Regions from separate parts of the Homo sapiens genome. Here region 2 is linked to region 1. Evidence: fine-mapped QTL for protein levels in blood plasma. A gene starts in region 1. The other region holds a variant in brackets. All regions are shown on one strand. Distances are between the middles of the regions. Region 1 holds the start of SPINK6 (serine peptidase inhibitor Kazal type 6). Region 2 has its middle 16 kb from the start of SPINK6.

The links. A credible set is the group of variants that fine-mapping cannot tell apart. PIP is the posterior inclusion probability: the model's chance that the variant is causal. The UK Biobank Pharma Proteomics Project read protein levels with antibody pairs (Olink). The fine-mapping took linkage between variants from a reference panel, not from the people measured, so its PIPs are less certain.
Region 2: its variant is the best candidate, but not a certain one, in a credible set for the plasma level of the SPINK6 protein (UK Biobank, PIP 0.89).

What each region holds. Positions count from the first base shown.
Region 1 is chr5:148,201,872-148,204,800 of GRCh38, reverse strand. It overlaps SPINK6 (serine peptidase inhibitor Kazal type 6), which reads right to left and starts at 1,759. Exons shown (of 4, transcript NM_205841.4): 1 at 1,647-1,759. The coding sequence starts at 1,704.
Region 2 is chr5:148,185,315-148,188,243 of GRCh38, reverse strand. No RefSeq gene overlaps it. Among named protein-coding and RNA genes, the nearest start is that of SPINK6, 16 kb to the left of the region's middle. The variant T/C (reference allele first, on the strand shown) is at 1,683.

The sequences.
Region 1 (2,929 bases):
AACAGGATTAATATTCACAATGACGGAGTCCAATTTAGTACTCTTTTTATTAAACTTTATTATGGCAATAATGTTAATAGACATTTGTTAAACATGCACTATACCCCATCCACTATGTTAAGCATTGTACATGCCTTTTTCTCATTTAATTCTCCACACAGAGATAGTCCTTTATATGTTTATTTTATATATAAGTGAAATAAACATCAGAGAGTTCACAAAGCTATAAAATGAAAGTGCCAGGGCTAAAATTCACTTTACTCTGTTTCAGCATTAAGGCCCTTAGGCATTATGGCCTCCCAAATACTATCTAGTATGTCTGTGAAGCATCCATGCTTTGGTAAACTGTATTAGTCAACCAGATCCTGTTAAAGATCAATTCACCTTTGTAAAGAGAAGAAAAGGAAATAACAATTGATTTCTGAGACTATCTTTGCAGCTAAACTTTACATAGTCAGATATATATTTTTCTGCCATCTCAGCAACTGATTGAACTACCCATTAAGGTTATTTGGCTTTAGTAGTCAAGCTTACTCCATAATATCACAGGAATCCTTTACCCATTTTTTTTGTATTTCTAAGTGTATTTGTTTTTGTAATTATGACCAGCTACAGTGAACACTGGCTTCTCTATCAGCTAAATCTCATTGATTTTTTTTTTACTTGTACATCCATTTAAAATCTTGCATAGTAGTAAAATTCATCTGCTACTGTCACACAAAATGATACATAAGATATGGAAGGTCCCAGGGCTTAGTTTTATTTCTATTATTTTACAAATGACAAAATATCTCAGAAAATTATGTTATTTCTTTAAGTGACACAGGCCATTAATAGAAGAGATGAAACTAGGTCTTAGGTCTAAAAACTAGCATTTGCTTTGTGCCCTACAACGTGAAAGAGTAGAATAATAAGGAAGAAAATAGCTTATGATGGACCTGCTCATTCCGATGGTTCTGTCTTAAAAAACATAACCTTGAAGTATGATTGTGCTTTGAACCTCACTAAAGTGTCCAAAGATATTCTCCTTCTCTAAGATTATTTAGCTCACCAGAAACATATGTTTCTGCATTCTAAGTTTCAATTACATATTTTCAAAGATTTTTCTCATTGAGTTTCCAATTTCCCCATTGTCTTAATTTAATTATTTGAATGTCTTTGTAATAATAACTAAGGGGAGGAAAATATTTCTTTGTTCTGGAAAGCAAAACCAATATTTAATGCAATTATCCATCCTCCAATCTAGTTTTATGGAACAAACATTAAATGTGATGGCAAGAGAATCTGATTCAAATTCCAGATTCTAACTACTAGTTGCAAGTCTTTTGCTGATTTTCTCAATTTCTCTGTTCCACAGTTTCTTATATGAAGAACAGAGATAGAAATACCTTATTATGAGTCTCAGAGACAATACATAAAATCCCTTCGTACATGCCTAGAATATAGTATATGCTCAACAAATCACAGTAATTTTAATAATTATTACCATAACCATTGTCGTCATCACAATCATTATCATCATTATGATAATCTCTCAGAATTGGTCTTTTACATCAAAATCATTAGGATTTAAAATATGATAAACAACTACTCATCATATCCAGTTCAGTATAAATATGGGATCTTAATTTTAAGAAAAAACTTACCTGTTAAAAAGCAGAAAAGAGCCAGAGAGAGGAGCAGAAACATGCCTGACAGTTTCATTGTGTCAGTTAGCTCACTCAGATCAAGGCTGCTTTGTCCAGCTGAGGTTCTCTGTCAAGACAATTCCCAGAAAGCCCTAAAATACATTCAGACCACATGAGTCCTATGCAGTTTATGCATTTAATGGGGCCTGCCAACACATTAAAAAAATGCTTCATGCTCCCCATCAATCTTAAAAATTGGGACAATTATGTGTGTCGCACCTCAGATCTTATTAATAGAGAATGTCATTTTCTACTGGTAGCCTACATTTTCCTAACAACCAATACATCCTCCCGGCTCTTCTTTCTAAAGTTTCACTACATTATAGGGATGATTCACTGGTTGACTTCCACTTGATTCTTATATTTCTTTCAGACAGGTCCTACATGTCTGTGGTCCAAGTGAGTAACCACAGGATAATGGAATCTTGGGTGTAACTTGGATTTTTAGAGTCCAGATCATCCAAGGTGTACCTAAAGGAGACAGATATTCCACACTGTAGCTAGAACTGCATTAGAAGAAGCATTTTCTGAGCAGGAATCAGCTTATTAATTTTTAAATCATTATAGCAGTCAAATGCCAGTGGTTGTCCAGTTTTGAGTCAAAATAAATAGGGAAGTCAATTATTTTCTTTAATTTGTAACAAAAATTTGTTTTTTAAAGTTACTGAATTTAATTTTCTTTTTTTTTTTTCTTTCTTTTTTTTTTTTTTTTTTGAGATGGAGTCTTTCTCTGTTGCCCAGGCTGGAGTGCAGTGGTGCAATCTTAGCTTACTGCAGTCTCTGCCTCCCGGGTTCAAGCGATTCTCCTGCCTCAGCCTCCCGAGTAGCTGGGACTACAGGTGCCTGCCACCATGCCTGGCTAATTTTTGTATTCTTAGTAGAGACGGGGTTTCACCATGTTGGCCAGGCTGGTCTCAAACTCCTGACCTCATGATCCGCCTGCCTCGGCCTTCCAAAGTGCTGGGATTATAGGCGTGAACCACTGTGCCTGGCCTGAATTGAATTTTTGAAATGAGCAATATATTTCCTTTTACTTTTCATATAAAAGTTAGATGAATCACATTATCTTTCATGGCCAATTTAATTGCAAGATAGATCAAAGAGTGCGATGCCACAACCTTCTTTCAGGAAACAGCAACAAAAAAGAATGGTTGTAGTGATAACAAGAACGTCTACCTCAAATCATAAACTGCTATTGAAAATATCATGAGGGAAATCATCTTAAAGTCCTTTACAGAAAG
Region 2 (2,929 bases), 17 kb after region 1:
GTTGCTTTTCTTATTTATTCTTTTAATGTCTTTTTTTATTTGTTAGTAGGTTAATGGCAACTTCATAGAATAATTTAGTAAGTGTTCTCTTTTCGTTAATATTATATGTGAATGTGTATAGAATCAGTATTTTTTTATTTAAATTTTTGGTAGAATTAACCAGTGATGGCACCAGAGCCAATGAGTTTCTTATCAGAGATTTTTATCTAGAAATTCAATTAATTTAAGAGATGTAGGACTATATAAATTAATTCCTTCTTGAGTGAATTTTGGTAGTTTATGTCTTTAAATGAATTCTTCCACTTCAACTAAATTAACAAAATAGTTGATATAATTTTTTTCATAATGTTTCCTTATTATTATTTTAATTTATATAAGAACTCTAGAGTTGTTACCTCTGTCATTCTTATTGGTGATTTGTGTCTTCTGTCTTTTTTTTTCTGATTGGTCACTTCACGTTTATCAGTTTTATCAATCTCAAAGAACTACCTTTTGGTTTCATTGATCTGTTTCTACTGCTTTTCTGTTTTCTATTTAATTGTTTTCCCCCTTTGTGATTTATGATTTCTTTTTTATGCTTATCTTGTTAAGATTTCCTCATTTTTTCCAGTTTCTCACAATGTAACTTGAGATTATCGATTTCAGATCTTCCTTCTTTCAATAAAAGAAAATGTTCAGGGTTAGTCTTTGGTAGGGACATGGAGACCTCTTCCACAGTAACAGAGAAGAGTACAGTATGGATGCTGATGTGCTGGTGGGAACCTGTTGTAGATCTTTTGGAATTGCTTCTATATTCTCAGTCACAAAGGAAGCTTTCTTATCTGAGAATGAGGATGCTAAAGGAAATAAATTTAATGTTCTTTGGTTTGTATTCAGCTTTACTTCCTATTAATATTGACAACTTTCACTTTTTTCATTTAATTGTTATATTTTTCACATATTTTGTATGTTTTTTTAATTTTTAAATTGGTTTTTGTAATGTGGTTTTTAATACCTTTTCATCTTCTTGTACAAGGAGACATTATAGTACGAAGTTTATTGTAATGATTGCTGTTTGAATTATGCCATTTTACTATTAAAGTTTTTAAAAAGCAGATTCAGTGCTCTACTTGTCACAGGCTAAAGATTTGAGCTTTAATATCTCAGACAAGAGTTGTAACTCAAACCTCAGATCATATTGCAGAACACAAGAATACTTGAGGAAAAGTAAGCAAAGTAGAAAAACTGATTTTTAAAATCTTTTTCTCTATAAAATAAGCTATTCCTCAACTTCTTTACATGAGTATGCCACTTTAAAAAGTGCATTTACTGTGCTATCTCATTTTGAATATCACAATTCTGTGAGGTGCTTATTAGGTACAAGCTTATTTTACCCACGAGTAAACCAATGCTTAGCAAGATTAAATGAATTCTCCCAAGTTGTACAGAAAGTGAGCTGAAGAACTGGATCAGAATGCTGATTCCTCTTATTGTGCAATATCTGGCTCATGATATTAGATATAGATAATATACCTATAGCTAATATAGATATTAGACAGTACTATTTCCTAGAATCAGTCCAAAAGCACCCAACTGACACAATATCAGCTCGCCTAGAATTTACATTCTTATGTTGAAGACAAAAGAAGTAGTCACTTAACCATATAATTATAAATGTCTTAGGTAGGAGAAGTAGAGAGTCC[T/C]GGGAAAGAGTGTAATGACTTCTCCCCTTAGTCAAGGGCCATTCTGTAAGAGTCAGTTTCACAGAAAGAAAGCCACAAACTTCTGCTTGACTGCTTAGGATGCAACTTTGCAATATGGGCATTTCCTCTCCTAACACTTAGTCATAATGCTAACAAGTCATAGTTTCCCTTGGAACACTGACGAAGGAGGAGATTGAGTAATCATAGAAGCTAAGTTATTATTATGCAAAAAAGTATACCTTTGACATATTTATATTTTCTTAATAGTCTTATGTGTCCCTTTTTCTCATTGCCAGAAAATGTTCAGCCAACTGAAGAAACTGAGCAAGGCCCCCACCACCACCACTACAACACACATATTCTTTTATTATTACTTGTAGTCATACAGGAATTTGCTCAAAAAGAAAAGTTAAGAAGGGTCATTTCATTATTCTAAGGTATATACATTTTTCGTTTTATGGTCCCAGTTTTTCCTAAAATTCATTATATCCAAAACTAAATTTCTTATGATCTCTACTGAATCTGCATCTCTTCCATGTCTCTTTACTTAATGAATGTGACATTGGAAGGGATATACTTCACCTCAGAGTTATATTAGGTTTATATGTCTATATTATCCAGTCATTAAAATGGCATAATCTTCTTTAGTACAGGTTGAGCGTGCATAATATGAAAAATCTGAAATGCAAAATGATCTAAAATCTGGAGCTTTTTGAGCCCCAACATGGAGCTCAAAAGAAAATGCTCATTGGAGCATTTCAGATCACAGATTTTTGGATTAAGGATGCTCAACCACTGGGTTTTCTGAAAATATTCCCAAATCCAAAAAACTAAACCCAAATTCCCAAACACTTCTCATCCCAAATATTTCATATAAGGTACACTGAACCAGAAATATTTTTAAGTAAGAAGAAATCATAAATCATTGTTTGCCGAAGCCTGATTTCAAAGGTCTTACACAAATAGTATGGATGTCTATTAGATCACAAAATGTGGAAAATCTTGAATATACCCATTTTTGTTTGATTTTTGTGTATGGTCTAAGATAAGGGTTCAACCTTATTCTTTTCATGAGGAAATCCGGTTTTTCCAGCCCTATCTACTAAAGAGATTATCCTTTCCCTCTCCTGACCTTTTGATTCTCAGCTTCCTATTTGGCTCCATTGAAATGTTTCTGTTTTTAAGCCTGTTCTACACACTCTTTTGATCACTATAGCCTTTTAACATAACTTTAAATAAGAAAGTGT